Linked DNA regions of Homo sapiens. The protein of the gene in region 5 interacts with the protein of the main gene of each other region in a pairwise test. Each region holds a gene or a part of one and is shown on either strand. Other genes may lie near its edges. The genes, in order: BMPR1A, PTPRJ, DCC, MLH3 and RASA1.

Region 1 (3,520 bases), on a different chromosome or scaffold from region 5:
TGAGTCAGAGAGAGGAAGTAATTACTAGAACAGTTTTTTTAGTTCCGTTCTGCTTCCAGCCTGAAAGATTTAGTACCAAATATGACAGTATCTGTCACTGCAGGCTGCTAGACTCTAGTGTAAGAACATAGTTCTATTTCTGTGAGCTAACTGCTGCCCTTCTATAACCTTCAGTTTCTGCCAGCATCGTCTGCATTCAAACCAATGACCTCGAGGTGAAAATCTCCAGATAACATGATTGGTCCCCATGCTCTCATGATTTCCTTACTTAAGCAATTAAAGGCCAAAGCAAGATGCTTAGTAACTCCTTTTCCACATAGAGGCACAAATAAAGGAAAGCTGGTCACAAGTTTTGAACCAAAGAGTTAAAAGAAGAATCATAACTTGTCTCTATTTAATGATTGGAAACTCTCACAGACTTCTGTGAAGTCTCTCCCCCTTTTGTACCTTTCTTACAAGTGATGACTATATACTTTTACCTGGCAGGGGAGAGACCACGGTCACGAAGGTGGTTTTCCCAGGGCGAGGCTTATTCATTGCACTCCAGATGTGCTGACCCCTGCGATTTCCCCAAATGTGGGAAACTCAACTGCATAATTGTGGTGGTGGGGGACTGCGTTCATGCTTTTCCCTGGTTAAATTAAAAAATTTTTAAGTTATTTTAAAAATATAAAAAACAAGATTTGACTGTATTCTGCCTTGCGCCACTCTTGTTTGTCTTTCACTAGTGCAAAAATTGTGATATAGCTGTCTTCATGTACCCCGCAATACCTGGTGCAGTAATTCTGTGCATAATAATGTATGTCTGTTTGTTGTATGAATGAAATTTATATTTCTAAAGAAACATGCTAGCTACAATTATTGTGATAAGAAAGCTTAACAACTTTTTCTCATTGAAAATTGTCACGAAACAATGAGCTTTTCAGAAATGATTTACTTACAAATTCCATATTTGAATGCAGGACAGAATCTGGATAGTATGCTTCATGGCACTGGGATGAAATCAGACTCCGACCAGAAAAAGTCAGAAAATGGAGTAACCTTAGCACCAGAGGATACCTTGCCTTTTTTAAAGTGCTATTGCTCAGGGCACTGTCCAGATGATGCTATTAATAACACATGCATGTAAGTATTTTATGCAGCCCTTCTTAAGAGTTAGGAGAATAGAGTTGCATTTAGTGCTATTTTAAGAATTATTAAACTTGTCTGCGGTTTTTTTTTCATTCATATATAGTATCTTTCCAGAAAGCCAAAAAGCCTTTTGTTTTGTATATTAGAACATTATTCCATTAAATGATTGATAGGTGAGTTACTATATTAGAATTATGTTATAATGCAGCTTTTAAAATAAGATCAAAGGGATCTAGTATTTAACATCTGAGTTTTTAATGATCTTTTAATCTTAAATTTATTGATGCTCATTTTAGAAAACTTAGAGGTTACCAAAAAAGAAATCAGAAAACTCACTGACAACCTCCTACTTCTTTTTAATTTAAAAAAAAATTTTTTTTTTAACTATAGACAGGATCTTGCTATGTTGCCCAGGCTGGTCTCAAACTCCTGGGCTCAAGCAGTCCTTCCACCTCAGCCTCCCAAAGTGCTGGGATTACTAGGGTGAGCTGCCACACCTGGCCTCCTACTTCTTAATTAGTTGAAATATTTTGCAGATATATATAAATCATATTGTGTTAATTAATTTTATGCTTTTTTCTTACCTGTGAATTTACCAATCCAAATCTGATTTATAAAATGATTTTAATTTTTCTAGTGTATTTCGTGTTAGCTGCACAACATGTTTATATATGATCATGTAATTCTAGTCCATATTTGTTGGAAACATTGACATATTGACTTAATAAGACCAAAAAAAATTGCCTGAACAACTCAACCTCATCAGTCAATTAATTGTCTCCTTGTTATAGAGGCAATAATGAATGTCATGTTTTATACTTTTAATAATTGTATGTTCCCTGAATGGACCAGATAGAAAGCATGAAACTTTACACGTAAACTCTTGAACCTGCATGACGGTCATCGTGTCTTAGGTTTGCTGCTTGTCCCCTGGTGGTGGTGGGCTCTGCGTGGCTGACTGTGACTAGTTGTTCATTTTTACCTTGGTGAGAGTTTGCCAGCAGGGAACTGCTCTCTGCTATGTCACCAAATAATGTTTTGCTAAACTTCTTGTCTGTAGTACCTGCCTGATGTAATGGGCTGTCTGTTAGTAGCTTAGTAACCCAGAGTAAAACTGAATCATCCATTTTAACAGAATTCTGCCCCACACTTAACATTTTCTCCTAACAGAAAACCAAGAATTCTGCAAAATTCTTCTAAGTAGAAGCAGCACAATTCCTGATATTAACAATAAATAGGAGTACAGAAAAAGCTTTTAGAAATTTCTCCCATACCTGTTAAAGTCTATATGAATATATTAAGGGGAAACTCCAGGATGCTAACACTAAAATAAGAATTTCATTATATATGTATGTAAATTTATTGAAAATTTATTCAAAAGTCCTCTCCCTGTTTTCCCATCATATTCAGTAAAAGGTGCCTTTTAGTCCCCTTTTTTTTGGTCATTAAGCCTATTTGTATGTTTCAGAGAAAAGTTTGTTTTTATCTATTATCATATACAATATGGAAGTACTGAAAAAATGGGTAAAAAGAGACAAAGTTATTTTAAAGTATGTTTTCAAAACATGACATAAAATTTTATAAATCAGCTTTCTGTGATCACATGACTGATTAGCAAAGAGAAGTCACATAACTCCTATGTGGAGGACTTGTTTAATTGAAATCCTTTTCTTCTTGACAAAGGGTTGTCACTGGCCTTTTAGATCTTGGCTCAGACATAACTTTCATTTGTCTTAAAACCTCTGGCGTTGCCAATAAATCACGTGTGAATGCAATTCTAAGTCACAAAACAAAGTATTAAAGGCCATCTGTACCTGTTCACATTCAGACTCAAATTTCGTTAGTACTTTCTATGTGAATTTATGTTTTGTTTTGTTTTGTTTTTTTCTGTTTTAGAACTAATGGACATTGCTTTGCCATCATAGAAGAAGATGACCAGGGAGAAACCACATTAGCTTCAGGGTGTATGAAATATGAAGGATCTGATTTTCAGTGCAAAGTAAGATATAATTTGGGACCCATGAGACAAAGAAGGGAGGGGCCATATGAAAGCATCGATTTCCCCCAGGAGAAACATGCCTGGTGTACACATCGCTGTATGTTCACATCAGTAAATATATTGGAGGAATACCTACTGTCTAGATTCTGTCCTGTATTCATATGTAGAATTTATAACTAAATCATTTCTGAAAAGCTAATTGTTTGATTACAATTTCCTTTTTTATTTCCATAGACAGCACCTGGCTCTGTTGCCCAGGCTGGAGTGCAGTGCTGCGATCTCCGCTCACTGCAACCTCAAGCCAGCCTCCTGCCTCAGCCTTCTGAATAGCTGAGACTACAGGTGCATGCCACTATACCTGGCTAATTTTTGTATTTTTTGTAGAGACAA
Region 2 (3,520 bases), on a different chromosome or scaffold from region 5:
TACAATTCGGTATCATCAATATTCACAATGTTGTGTAACTATCACCACTACCTGTACCCAAAACACTGTCATTATCCCCAGCATAAACTGTAGCCATTAAACAATAATGCCCACTCCCTCCTCTGAACAGCCCCTGGTAACCTCTATTCTAATTTCTGTAGAATATTAAGTTGCCTAATCTAGGTACTCATGTAAGTGGAATCATCCAGTATTTGTCCTTCTGTGTCTGGCTTCACTTAGCATAATGTCCTCAAGATCCATCCATGTTGTACCATAAATCAGAATTTCTTTCTTTCTTATGGCTGAATAGTATTTTGTTGTATGGATGAACCACATTTTATCTATCCATTCATTTGTTGATGGGATCTTGGGTCCACCTTTGGCTACTGTGAACAATGCTACTACTATGAACACTGATGTACAAATAACTGTCCAGGGGCCTGTTTTCAATTCTTTTGGAGATATACATAGGACTGGAATTACTGGATCATATGGTATTCGTTTCCTTTTTTTGAAATTGCTTTTAATGCTGTTAAGCTGACTTTTTCCAATAACAATAAAGGTTATTTGATAATAGAAAGGTAACCCCCCTAAGAGTTTAGATCTTATAGCAAGCCTTCTTGACTTTCATTCAATGGGACCATTGAATGAAACGGGTCCTTTGAGACAATGCAATTCCAGGCAGGTGTTAAAATTACCCTGTAGAAATACTGATATTAAGAGGAAAGAATATTCACAATAAACTATAGTAAAAGAGATGCCCTCTCCTCACTAATACTAAACTTTACTGCTGTACCACATCAAAGTGTCAATCTACATGGTGGTTAAGCACTTGGTCTTAGACAGCAGACACAGGTCAGTTTGCCACCTTGTCACTCTGGGCCAGTTACTTAAGTTTGCAGAGCCCCCATTTCTTACTCTGTAAGACAGAAATGATAATAATACCTGCTCCATGAAGTTGTGTTAAAAATGTAAAATGCAGTATGAGAGCACTCAGCACTTCGCAGACCCCCAGCATATTATATTATTGTTACAGTAAGTTCTGGGCAATAGCAAGTAGCACAACATCATGCATCTCCCTCAGTGGTGATCCTCTTACCATTATCCACATCCTTAAAAGACAGAAGAAACATGTTGACGTTAAGACGTCATGTCAACAGTCTGAAATGCAGATTTGCAAAGGGAATACTGCATTTCATCTGAGGGATGCATTTTAGTAGATCCCTTATTTCAGAAGCAGATCCTCTGAGTGACTATCGGTGCTTAACCCAACCAGCACAGTTGAAGAAGCTTCTTCAAGGAGAATCTCAAAAGCGTAACTCATTTCATGTGTGTTTCAAGGAATCTGTCCCATTTCTTTTATATATATATATATGTTTTTATTATACTTTAAGTTCTAGGGTACATGTGCACAACGTGCAGGTTTGTTACATATGTATACATGTGCCATGTTGGTGTGCTGCACCCATTAACTCATCATTTACATTAGGTATATCTTTATTCTACCCTCTGTATAAAAGATTTCAACTATCTTGAATCTTAGATCAAGGAAGACTGTATGTTTTTCAACCTTTCCAAAAAACAATTATTTCAAAATTTTAAAACAACAATAATGAACATTACTCTCTAGGATTTCCCAGAAGTTTCTCCTGTAGGCCTAGAAATAATTTAATAATTTAAACTGTTTCTATAAAAAAAAATTTTTTTTTGAGACAGGGTCTCCCAGGCTGGTGCTAGTCTGCAACTGTTGGGCCAAGCAATCCTCCTGCCGCAGCCTCTCAAGTAGCTGGGACGATGGGTGCAGGCCACCGTAGCTGACTATAAAATGATTTTATCAATTTCAATTAGCCTTCTAGAACTAACAAAGTATCTCATCACAGTGTTGTTTAGGAAAGACTGTGAACAGTCCACCTGCCCAACACAGCACAGTAGTTAATTTCTAACACATCTTGACCAGAGGTTCTTAAACTTTTTGCTCTCAGGACTTCTTTACCATCTTAAAAGTTATTAAGGCTCTCAGAGAATTTGTATTTACATAGGTTATATTTATTAATATTTACTATATCAGGGATTTAAAATGAAGAAATTTTTAAAATGTAAGAATCCACAGCATATATTCCATTAGACCTGAGAGACAATGTCATCCCATATCGGATCAAAGTTGGAAAACTCCAAAAGAGAATGAGAATGAAAAAGCCAAATAACATTTTAGTATTGTTATGATAATACTACCTTGGAGACCCCTTGAAAGAACCTAGGGATCCCTAGAGAGCCCTGGACCACAATTTGAAAACCACTGATCTAGCCCAGAGGTCAGCAAACATTCTCTGTAATGGCCAGAAAATAAATATCTCAGGCTTCACAAGCCACACGTTCTCTGCTGCCACTACTCAATTCTAGCACCAAAGTAGCCATAGACAGTACATAAGCAAATGAACATGGCTGTGATCCAATAAAACTTTATTTACAAAAACAGACAATGAGCCAAATTTGGCATAGGGGCCATTCTTATCTGCCAACTCTGTTTCAGATGATGGAATTCCAGGCAGGTGTTCAAATCATCCTGTAGAAATATTTTATTAAGAGGAAAGAATATTCATAATTAATTGGCAAGTTGGGGAAAAGGCAGATTACAAAACCACATGTACAGATGGCCTCAATGTTTGTGAAAGAAATAAATATATATTTGTGGGCTGGGTGCAGTGGCGCACACCTGTAATCCAAGCACTTTGGGAGGCTGAGGTGGGCAGATCATTTGAGATCAGGAGATCAAGACCAGCCTGGCCAATATGGCGAAACCCTGTCTCTACTAAAACTATAAAAATTAGCCAGGCATGGTGGTGCACACCTGTAATTCCAATTACTCAGGAGGCTGAGGCACAAGAATCGCTTCACTTGAACCCAGGAGATGGAGGTTGCAGTGAGCCAAGATCATGCCACTGCACTCCAGCCTGGGTGACAGGGTAAGACTGTCTCAAAAAAAAAAAAAAAAAAAAAAAAAAATATATATATATATATATATGTGTGTGTGTGTGTGTGTGTATTAAATATTAAATATATATGTATTAAATATATGTATACTCACACATATATTTGTGTATCTATATGTATATGTTTAAAAATTGTAAAATGTCATACATCAAAAGTGATTATCTCTGCTTGATGGTTTCCATGTAAGTTTTTTCTACTTACTTGTCTGTATTTCATATAATAAATAAGCATTAGTGTTATGAAAATTTTTAAAGTTTTTTCTTAGATAATTAAAAGAAAAACAATATTTGGAAACATTATGTTTATTAATTATACTGATTTCCTTTAAGAAACATGATGGTTTAACAGAAAAGCCTATTTGCTTACCAGTTCTATTGCAAACTGTCCGAGATGCCCCTTCAGTCCCATTTGGTCCTTTTGGAACTATTTCAAAGCAATACTTGGTTCCAGGGAACAAGCCACCAATGATAATACTTTGGTTGGTGGTTATTTCTACCCGAGAATTGCCAGCTCCCTCCTGTGTGATATG
Region 3 (3,520 bases), on a different chromosome or scaffold from region 5:
GAAATGAAAGCTGTGAATAATATGGTTGTTTGGAACTATTAATAAAAGAGCAATATGCACTGGTATTACCATTGGCAAATTCCCATCAATATTGAAAAAGAAGGCATATTCAATCTTATGCATTATTATGTATTTCTAAACCACACCATTGGGACAAAGCTCAGGTATTTCTAAACTACCAAAGAAAACACTTTCACTTAATAGTTGAATTAAAGGGATTTAGTTGTTAAACCTCAGGCTAAAATTTGTCAAATAACTTTGGAGCACTATAATAATTTTGATCATCAGTCAGCCAACCTGTATTTCTCCATCTTAGTTTGGAGTTAAACCAGAGAAATATAAGATAAGGAATTAACATTCTAGAGTGAGAGAAAGAAAAAGTGTGTTACTAAATTGTGTTTCATTTACCTGAGTCCTGCAATGATAAAGGTGCATAATACTTTACATTTTATTTTTTGCTATTACCTATTTGGCATATGCAACATGTAATTCTATCTTGCACATTTTTTATTGGCCTGCAGGGAAAATAATCTGGATTGTTCATCCTTTCTTCTTGACAAGTTTAACACTGGCTTTCCTTGATATCTTGTTTTGAAGAACAATATCTTAAATACATTGGGTCAGTCCCATGCTACTGATATTATGATATTATTAAGAAATGTTTTTTCCTCTGAAAAGTAGTAACTTTGAAAAAGGTTAACGTTCTATTATTCCAACCTGGTAACACCATTTTGGGGAAAAAAGTAGCTTAACTAGGTTGGCATAACCTATTATCTTATAGAGCTCACTCCTGTCTCTCTTAAAGATTGTGAGCTCTAGAACTTCAATAATATTGGCTGAGAGGCCACAAGTTAGAATGTCTTAAGATAACAACACTATTTAGCTGCTTTTAGAGTACAGTTTAACTCTCCACCAAAAGCAGCATGCATGAACATTTAAAAATTTATTTTTAAGGCAAATCCCCCTGACCTTGCAAAGTGGAACACAGCATATTAAACACAGTGCCTGTGGGTCACAGCCTTGGTTTCAGAGTGAGAAAGGCTTTCTTGGGCTGCGTCAAGGGAGGCAGTATTGATGCCACACCTCTTAGAGATGAGAGTTTTGATTCCTTAGAAACGAGCTGAAAACAAGCAAGCAGCCCACAGCAGGCTGCCGAAAAATTCACCGGACATTGTGTTGCTATTTAATTGAGTGTCTATTAATCATGAGTTAGTGAGATTCCAAGCTATGATTCCTTAAGATATAACTGTTGTGACAACTCATGAAACTCTTAAATTTTCCTCCAGAGCATTATAAGGAAGGAATGGAAAAAGAGGGGGAAGAAGACTTGACGTTTACATTTTATGAATTGTAAATGTGCATAGTATTTACTATTCCTCTTTAGAACTCTTTAGGGAGTACAGTACTTTTCCAGAACCAAGTGACTTTTTATCCTTAGTTAATCAATCAATTAATCAAGTAATTTCAGCAGGTTTGTGACATTATTCTTTGGCCTCAGGCAAAGCTAAGATTTCTTGAAATTTATGTATATAGTTCATCTAAGAGATTATCATCTGAGGTAGATTAATCCTTCAAAAATGTATAGCTGGGTAGCAAATACCAAAACAGAGCAATGTGTTCCCAATTTGGTGCAAGTTTCTGATAGTAGTGTGGGCCAGAAACTTCCTATGGAAAGTAGGAAGATCTGTAATCAGGCAAGAACTCATTCTCTAGGGAAATTGCAAGTGCCCTTATGTAATTAGAGCTATCATAATTCACACCAAAGTCAGCTATTTGAAGGAGAAGGTATGAGGGGGTGGAAATCCTCCTTGTTTGTGTGTGGATGTGGACATTGAATTTTAATTTTAAAGAAATACCCGGAAACAACTGCATTCTCTTTAAATAGTTATCTTTACTGGTAGAATCATGAAGAAGAAGTTTCACATGCAAAGTTTGGGATGGCAAATTCTCCAAAGAAATGGTAAGAACACTTACTTTAAAATGTAATCTTAGGGCACAGTCTCCCATGGAAAGAAATATTCTGTTCAGAAACTTCAGCACTGCTTTTAAACATGCCGCACCAGGTAAAGATAAGTGTTTTGTCTGCAAGTCAAAATTTAAATCAGGGCTCATTTCCAAATGACAGTGATCCTGCTAGATGACCCTACTGCGTGCAGCTGCAAACATTCCAGGAGCATATTATATGCATTTGAAGAATCCCAGACTGTTAGATGTATGAAACTGGAAGCGAGAAACATTTCCTCTCATTAAAGATGCTTTTGAGATAACTGAGTTGCTAGAATTCCTTTAGAAGATGCAGTATCACAACTTCCCTCTCTAAAAACAAGTAAAAATATCCCCGCCTCCCCACCAAAAAATCACCTCCCCATATATCTTGTCAAGCTTCCCATTGGTTTAGGAAACCATACTACAGCCTGCAAATATCCTGTACTCTAGCAGAAACTTTCAGCAGAGCTTCATTCAGGAATTTAGGTAGGATTAAGGCTCTTCCTCTTCAATGAAAACAATAAGGAAGTTTGCTAAGAGGTTAACTTGCCAGAGAATAAATTTAAGTCATACACACTGAGAAGTTATAAATCTCTCCCCAGAAAAAAATGCCTATCAGCATCTCAAGCCAGCCTGGCTTTTAAGAGCATTAAAGCAAAGGCACTAAGCCTAATATATTCACATATAACACATGTGGTGGCCGTTTCCCATGCTTTATAACTCAGAGGGCAGCTGCTGCTGTGTGGGAAATGGACACTGACAGGTACTGGTGATTTATACTGCGGCACTCACAGAGGAGTGGACTGCCAGCCTACCCCGAGCCCTCAGGCTCTGCCATACTCCCGCCACTCAAAAGCAAACCCACATGGGGGCATCTGATCTGCTTTGGTTGGGGGAATGAGAAGAGGTCGCCTAGGGAGGGCGACCAGCCTCATTTCAGCATATCCAGACTACATTAAACACTCACAGATTTTTTTCAATGCAATGGAACCCAAACATGTATGAAGAATTAATTAATATGTATGCCTCATTTTTCACTCATTAACATCCAACATCCAAAATTGTTATCTTATCTGAGATCCCCTGAGACTCTATAAGGTTCCTGTGCCTGTGGCTCATGTCAAATATATAAGAAGATGACATCTTACAGAAGCCAACTAAAAAGTCACCATCCTCCTCCCCCAACATCAAGTCCTCACTCTCTACTGACACTTTTCAGGGCTGTCCTTTGTTAAATCATCACAGTTTCATACAAATCTACAGCAGCTTCAGACTTTACCTAGAAAGTGGGAAAGGGCCCAGTGCTATTGTGCTAGTCTCCATAATCCTTTGTTACCAATCAACAAAGTCTTTAAAACACCCGGCTGAATGGGAATTTCTCTGCCAGTAAACTAGACACTTGGCCTTATTAAGGGCACCTCCTACTGGTCCTTTTATAGAGTGAACTATGCTTTCTCGTTGTAAGTTTCCTGCCATGTTCCTAAACAGGGGAAATTATTACTAAGAGAAAGAAGTGATACTCAGATTAATGAGC
Region 4 (3,520 bases), on a different chromosome or scaffold from region 5:
CACCACGTTGGCCAGGCTGGTCTCAAAACTCCTGACCTCAGGTGATCTGCCCGCCTTGGCCTCCCAAAGTGCTGGGATTACAGGCATGAGCCACCATGCCTGGCCCACGGACTCTTACTAAAATAACTTCTATTTATTTTTATATTTTTGTATTTTTTGTCTCAAGATCTGTTTGTGGATAAAAGATCTTGTAAGAGATTTACTTCAGTAAAAAAAAAAAAAAAAAAAAAAAAAAAAAACCCAAAAGAACACAGAATAAGTAGGATGCAAGAGGCAATGGTGAACAAAGACTCTGGTGAACACTTTTTTTAATCTAAATAAAGATTGACTATAAAATAAATGACCACCAGGGAATTAAAAACAAGGTGGAATTAAAGTACTAGACAGCAACATGGAAGATGGGAGGAGGGTGATGGGAGATGAACAGTTTGTAAGATTTTGGTACAGTTAGGAAGAGGATAGAGAAGTGAATTACTTTTAAACTTTGATAAGTATGCATGCTAAAAGTTAAGGCTAATCTCTAAAAGGATATAAATGGAATATATAACTTCTAAACGAGTAGAGCAAAAAAAAAAAGAGAAATACAGAAAACTATAATAGAAAACAGGAAAGGAGAGGAAAAAGACAATAAAGACAAAATAAATGATATTTGCTATAAAAAAAGAAACATATAAGTAATCAAAATAAAAAGTAATAGTTCTCTCTAATACCTCCAATGCCACAGCCCAGCAGTAGCTTTCCAAACCTTTACCAAAACATATATGTAAAGTAATCATATTTGGAATGCAATCTAAAATGGACCTTACTCTCCTGCTTAAAAGTTTTCACTGGCTGCCTATAGGATAAAATGCAAACTACTTAGTAGAATATGCTAAATTATTTTATGATTTGACCTTGACAACCCATCTAGCCAACTCCCATCCAGTCAAAGATCCAAGTATAACTTCTGATTTCCCCCCAATTTTTTTTTTTTTTTTTTTGAGACGGAGTCTTACTGTGTCACTCAGGCTGGAGTGCAGTGCAGTGATCTTGGATCACTGCAACCTCCACCTTCCGGGTTCAAGCAATTCTCATGCCTCAGCCTCCCAAGTAGCTGGGATTACAGGCACATACCATCATGCCTGGCTAATTTTTTAATTTTTAGTAGAGACGGGGTCTCATCATGTTGGCCAGGCTGGTCTTGAACTCCAGACCTCAAATGATCCGCCCGCCTTGGCCTCCCAAAATGCTGGGATTACAGGCGTGAGCCACTGCACCTGGCCTGATTTCCCCAAATCTTAACTACCAATAGCCTAACGTTGATCAGAAGCATTACCAATAATATAAACAGTTGATTAACACATATTTTGTGTGTTGTATATATTACACACTGTATTCTTACAATTAAGTAAGCTAGAGAAAAGAAAATGTTGGCCAGGCGTAGTGGCTCATGCCTGTAATCCCAGCACTTTGGGAGGCCAAGGCAGGTGGATCATTTGAGGTCAGGAGTTCAATACCAGCTTGGCCAACATGGTGAGACCCCATCTCTACTAAAAATACAAAAATTAGCCGGGGCATGGTGGTGTGCGCCTGTAATCCCAGCTACTTGGGAGGCTGAGGTAGGAGAATCGCTTTAACCCGGGAGGTGGAGGTTGCAGTGAGCTGAGATTGTGCCATTGCACTCCAGCCTGGGCATCGCAAAAAAAAAAAAAAAAGAAAGAAAGAAAGAAAGAAAGAAAAAGAAAATGTTAAGAAAATCATAAGAAACAGAAAATATATTTATTATTCATTAAGTGGAAATGAATCATCATAAAGGTCTTCACCCTCATCATTTTCACATTGAATAGGCTAAGGAGGAGGAAGAAGAGGAAAGGTTGGTCTTGCTGTCTCAGGAATGGCAGAGGTGAAAGAAAATCTGCATTTAAGTGTACCTGCGCAGTTCAGACCCAAGTTATCCAAGGATCAACTGTAGATCTTAATTTGAGCCATATCTATTGATAGTTCCCTAAACATAGGATGTATCTCAAGTCTCTGATATGTATTCCTCTGTCTAGAATGCCCTTCTCCCCTCTTCTGTACTCAGCACTTTCCCACTATTCTTTTTTTCTTTTTTTTTTTGAGACAGAGTTTCACTCTTGTTGCCCAGGCTGGAGTACAATGGTGCAATCTTGGCTCAATGCAACCTCCGCCTCCCAGGTTCAAGCCATTCTCCTGCCTCAGCCTCCTGAGTAGCTGGGATTATAGGCATGCACCACCACGCCCGGCTAATTTTCTATTTTTAGTAGAGATGGGGTTTTTCCATGCTTGTCAGGCTGGTCTCGAACTCCCGACCTCAGGTGAACCACCCACCACGGCCTCCCAAAGTGCTGGCATTACAGGTGTGAGCCACCTTGCCCAGCCTAGTTTCCCACTATTCTGTAAGACTTTTCTGGCTGTGTGCAGTGGCTCATGCCTGTAGTGCCGGGGGTTTGGGAAGCCAATGCAAGGGGATTGCTTGAGGCCAGAAGTTCAGGACCAGCCTGGGCAACATAGTGAGGCCCCCATCTCTACAAAAAAAAAAAAGGAAAAAATTAGCCAGGCATGGTGGTGCGTGTCTGTAGTCCGAGTTACTTGGGAGGCTGAGGCAGGAAGATTGCTTGTGCCCAGGAGATCAAGGCTACAGTGAGCTATGATTGCACCACTGCACTCCAGCTTGGGCAACAGAGTGAGACCTGGTCTCTCAAAAGTAAAAACTTTTCTTAAGAAAACAGCTTTTCTGTGACATTTTCATTGACTTCACCTCCCCAGGCACACAAGTCATTCTGTGTTTCCATAACACTTCTGAAAAACTATCTTGGTGCATTCTAGACTCTTAGTTTTCATTACCTTTATCACTGGGAAGAAAGCAAAACACATACCTCTACTAGCCAAAGTTCACTGACTATAATTCTTTAAATGCCCTTCTTCCTTATTTTGAGCTAACTCATCTCTGAATTTCTAGCTCCTGGCACACCGCAGGTAAATACCATGAATACTTGTTGAAGAAAAGATGAATTCAGAGAATCTACAGACAAAATATGAGGTTACCATCACTCAGCAATTTCCTTAACATCTGCAGCTGTGTCTTACCTCCACAATACTCTTGGTCACAGTAGATCTTCCTCTCCGAAGTTCATTGGCTTCTCTTTCCACAAAACATAGTGGTACTTTTCCCACAAGGACCAGAGAATCACTAGTGTCTGGAAATACAAATTCAAGGCCCAGATCTTCCAGATTTTTGTGGTAACACCTAAAGAGATAACCTCAAATGTTAAAAAAAAAAAGAGTGCTACTTCATTTGCACTTCACTACTGGTTCCAAATACTACTTAATAGTTTTTCAAAAGCTGCCACAGGGCTTAACAACCGTATTGTTTTTCTCACACTTATGTGTGGGTGTTTGGGATTTTTTATTATCAAATTTCCTTTTTGAATTACAGTAACCTTTATTGTTTTTCTCTTTTCCATTGGGAATCAATCTGTGTCTAAGTCTTGTTTCTAAGTGTGTTTTCTTCATTGAGGAA
Region 5 (3,520 bases):
CTGAGAAAGGTTTGTGATTCTGCCTAAGGCATTTGATATTTTTATTAGCCATTAAATAAGCCTCATTCAGAAAAGCTTTTAATCAGCTTTTTTTCCCCTCAAATAAATAGAATTGACTAAGCACTGTTTGCTTTTCAGTTGGCTAATTGGGAATAAATGGTAACAGACCTACCAGGAGGAGTTCCATAGAGAAAACTACTTAAAAACTCCCATTATACAAAGAAAAAAGATCAATACACACAGAGATACCGAAAAATAGACAACCTCGAAAACTATAACTACTTGTTTTCCTCTATTCATTTGCATTTGTCATTGCCAACATGCATTTATATTGATTTATTCCTTCTTTTAGTTAAGTCCATCAAAGTTAGAAAAAAATGAAGATGTGAACACTAATTTAACACACCTATTGAACATACTTTCAGAGCTTGTGGAGAAAATATTCATGGCTTCAGAAATACTTCCACCGTAAGTGGTGAAATTTTCATTTGACAAGAAATTGTGTATCTATGTCTTCAGAAATTTCTATTTCTAAAACGTGAAAGCTTTTCTGTTGTCCTAATATTATTATACTCTGAAAAAGTCATGGTTAATCTTTATGAGATGAATTGTATTTAAAGAAAATAGCTGTCTTAATAAAACCACCCATTATTTTCGTACAAGCCAATATGTCTGGTTTGTACTGTAGTAGCTTGGGGAGTGAATAGAGGTTTATAGTTTCAGATTTGAGATTGTAAAAGATATCTTGTCTATCCATTTAGTCTATACTTGATAGACTAATCACTCTGTTAATATGCTTGTCGGCCTCCAGTATTAGTGAACTCACTTGTTCAGGTAGAAGTTAACTTAAGTCTAAATCTTGCTCCCCAGAATTTGCAGCTGGTTGGTTCTCTATATCTGAAAGTAAATGTCAGGAAGTTGACTGAATAAATTGATGATAAACTTAGTGGATAAAGTTTTCCTTACCCCTTGCTAAATGCCTCATTACCTGTGGCAAAATACTTTTTTGGGTAAAAGGCCAGTTTTATTGAACTGTGGTATATTTGGGTAAATTAAGCTTTTGGCTGCTAGGAGATCAGTGTTTTCACTTGCTTTCTGTGTTGAGATGATTGTGTTATTTTGGCAGGACATTGAGATATATTTATGGGTGTTTACAGAAATCTGTTCAGCATAAGTGGCCTACAAATACCACCATGAGAACAAGAGTTGTTAGGTAAGGCTCATCAATTGATTTGTTAAATCACATACTAATAGGTGGATAATTGTGAAAAATTGAGGAATAACAATATACAATTCAATGCTTTTTTCTTTGGCTTTTATGTCAAAGCCCTGTTGCATATTTTCTAAGTCCAGATGGCTCCTAAACTGAAAGTTACTGTGAGATTTAGCTGCCGTTTGCATTTTCTAAAAACATGAACATTCATTTATAGTCAAGTATTGGGGATTTTTAAACCCTTACAAGATGAGGCTAAAAGTTATATAACAAAATCTGTAGCTAACTTCATATAGTATTCTTCATACATACACACACATTGATTGGCAGTGAGAGAGAAGGGCAGTAATTGACCGATTTAGATATTAATTGGTTTGTTACAATCTGTGACTCTGAGCTAATCAGAACCAGAACATGTAGTTCTGAAGCTGTGTTTCAGTCTGCTCATTGTACCATAATTAGGAAGAACTGCTTTGGCAAATCATGGAATTTGGGAGCTTATATAAAGGGACTTCATTATCATTATTCTATAGGAAGAACTGCTTTGGCAAATCATGGAATTTGGGAGCTTACGTAAGGTTACTTCATTATCATTATTCTAACTTATTTTTCCAATGAAGAAGCAGATCTGTCTGGAGAGGTTAAGTTGAACTAAGGTTTTATAGAAAGCTGGTGGCTAAGGCAGAACTAAAGGTAACTTTCTAAGACCCAATCTGATATCCTTGAGTCTTATTGTAGGCTTTTGCTTTTGTTAAGCATACTCCAACTAATACCCCAACTAATTCCAGGCAAATGGAAGTTTAATGCGAAAGCGTCATGGAATACAGCAGTTTTCTAATAATATAATTTGTTATTTAGAATATACACTGTCATGTCATGCTATATGTAAAATAATTAGGCAACCATTAACACCATTATTACACAGTTTGTTTTGAAAATGTGTTAATCCTGCCTCCAACCTAAATTTTGTCAAGGGGCTTCTATTTCTTTTTTTGGGGGGCAGGTAATATTTCTCTTGGTTATGATATGACATAATATTTAAGAACTACAGATTCTGTTTTTCTTGGCATTAGTGGTGATTGGGAGGAATAGAAAAGAATTACAAGCATAATATTCCAGCACAGTTACGTGTGAGATGTAAATTAAAACTGTTCTATAAATTTGTAAGTTTCAAACAAGTATAACTGTTAAGCAAACACAGCAGGAAATTGTAAACTGTTTCGTGCAAGAGGGTGTTTTAGGGCATTTTTGCCAAGGTTAGGTTTCAGGCTCATAGACCTACTATGTATAATTATCACAATATTTTCAAGTAAAGTTTACAAGATTCTTTAAATTTGGGAAGTCCAAAATTAAAGACTTAATTGTTATTTTTTTGAGACAGGGTCTTGCTCTGTTGCCCATGCTGGAGTGCAGTGGTGTGATTTCGGCTTACTGCAACCCCCGCCTCCCAGGTTCAAGTGAGATTCTTGTGCTTCATCCACCCAAGTAGCTGGATTACAGGCATGCACCACCATACCTGGCTATTTTTGTATTTTTAGTAGAGATGGGGTTAGACCATGTTGGCCAGGCTGGTCTTGAACTCCTGGCCTCAGGTGGTACACCCACCTCGGCCTCCCAAAGTGTTGGATTACAGGCATGAGCCACCATGCCCAGCCAATATATTAGAATTTCTATAAATGCTGTTTGAGAAGTAACATCTTTACTTTCTAAGAGTCCAAAAATTAGCAAACAGGTACATGTTCAAAGGTAAATGCTAAGAAATTGGGTAATCCACTCTAACAGAGAACAGAGATTGTATCTATTAATCTATAGAAGGAATTGCGTAACTCATTATTTTGGGAATAATGCTTGTCTTTACATGGATTATGTCTATCAATCTGTAGAAGGAATTGCATAATTCATTATTTTAGGAATAATGCTTGTCTTTACATGGGGCAAGTAAGAGGTTAATTATTAGTGTGGATTCTTCTTAAAAGGAAATTAGAAATTATCTACATGACAACATATCCTCCCTACCAGTGACTAAAGGAGGCAGAATAGGAGTATCTATGCAAGCTTTTAACACTGACATTGTCCCAAAGTAAAATTAGCAGATAAAATCATATATGACAGCTGTTAGTATAATTTTTGCTTTTGCTATTGTTTTATAATTTGACAACTTTTTAAAACTTTAGAATTCCTAATGTCTTGTCTTAAAAGTTTTTCAGGCTGGGCATGGTGGCTCAAGCCTGTAATCTCAACATGTTTAGACCAAGACAGGAGGATTGCTTGAGGCCAGGAATTTGAAATTGTCCTGGGCACCGTAGC

What was found.
Region 1: the proteins of RASA1 (region 5) and BMPR1A interact in a two-hybrid assay, tested with the Homo sapiens proteins (one large-scale study listed by BioGRID and IntAct).
Region 2: the proteins of RASA1 (region 5) and PTPRJ interact in a two-hybrid assay, tested with the Homo sapiens proteins (one large-scale study listed by BioGRID and IntAct).
Region 3: the proteins of RASA1 (region 5) and DCC interact in a two-hybrid assay, tested with the Homo sapiens proteins (one large-scale study listed by BioGRID and IntAct).
Region 4: the proteins of RASA1 (region 5) and MLH3 interact in a two-hybrid assay, tested with the Homo sapiens proteins (one large-scale study listed by BioGRID and IntAct).

The regions. Positions count from the first base shown.
Region 1 is NC_000010.11:86,889,100-86,892,619, forward strand, and holds part of BMPR1A (bone morphogenetic protein receptor type-1A isoform 3 precursor), read left to right. Parts: intron 1-962; coding exon 963-1,125; intron 1,126-3,027; coding exon 3,028-3,130; intron 3,131-3,520. UniProt on the Homo sapiens protein: On ligand binding, forms a receptor complex consisting of two type II and two type I transmembrane serine/threonine kinases.
Region 2 is NC_000011.10:48,130,554-48,134,073, reverse strand, and holds part of PTPRJ (receptor-type tyrosine-protein phosphatase eta isoform 1 precursor), read right to left. Parts: coding exon 3,358-3,520; intron 2,564-3,357; coding exon of another isoform or gene 2,559-2,563; exon of another isoform or gene 1,354-2,558; intron 1-1,353. UniProt on the Homo sapiens protein: Tyrosine phosphatase which dephosphorylates or contributes to the dephosphorylation of CTNND1, FLT3, PDGFRB, MET, KDR, LYN, SRC, MAPK1, MAPK3, EGFR, TJP1, OCLN, PIK3R1 and PIK3R2. Plays a role in cell adhesion, migration, proliferation and differentiation.
Region 3 is NC_000018.10:52,343,180-52,346,699, reverse strand, and holds part of DCC (netrin receptor DCC), read right to left. Parts: intron 1-3,520. UniProt on the Homo sapiens protein: Receptor for netrin required for axon guidance. Mediates axon attraction of neuronal growth cones in the developing nervous system upon ligand binding. Its association with UNC5 proteins may trigger signaling for axon repulsion.
Region 4 is NC_000014.9:75,027,456-75,030,975, forward strand, and holds part of MLH3 (DNA mismatch repair protein Mlh3), read right to left. Parts: intron 3,261-3,520; coding exon of another isoform or gene 3,248-3,260; coding exon 3,088-3,247; exon of another isoform or gene 3,087-3,087; intron 1-3,086. UniProt on the Homo sapiens protein: Probably involved in the repair of mismatches in DNA.
Region 5 is NC_000005.10:87,379,383-87,382,902, forward strand, and holds part of RASA1 (ras GTPase-activating protein 1), read left to right. Parts: intron 1-352; coding exon 353-468; intron 469-1,126; coding exon 1,127-1,213; intron 1,214-3,520. UniProt on the Homo sapiens protein: Inhibitory regulator of the Ras-cyclic AMP pathway. Stimulates the GTPase of normal but not oncogenic Ras p21; this stimulation may be further increased in the presence of NCK1.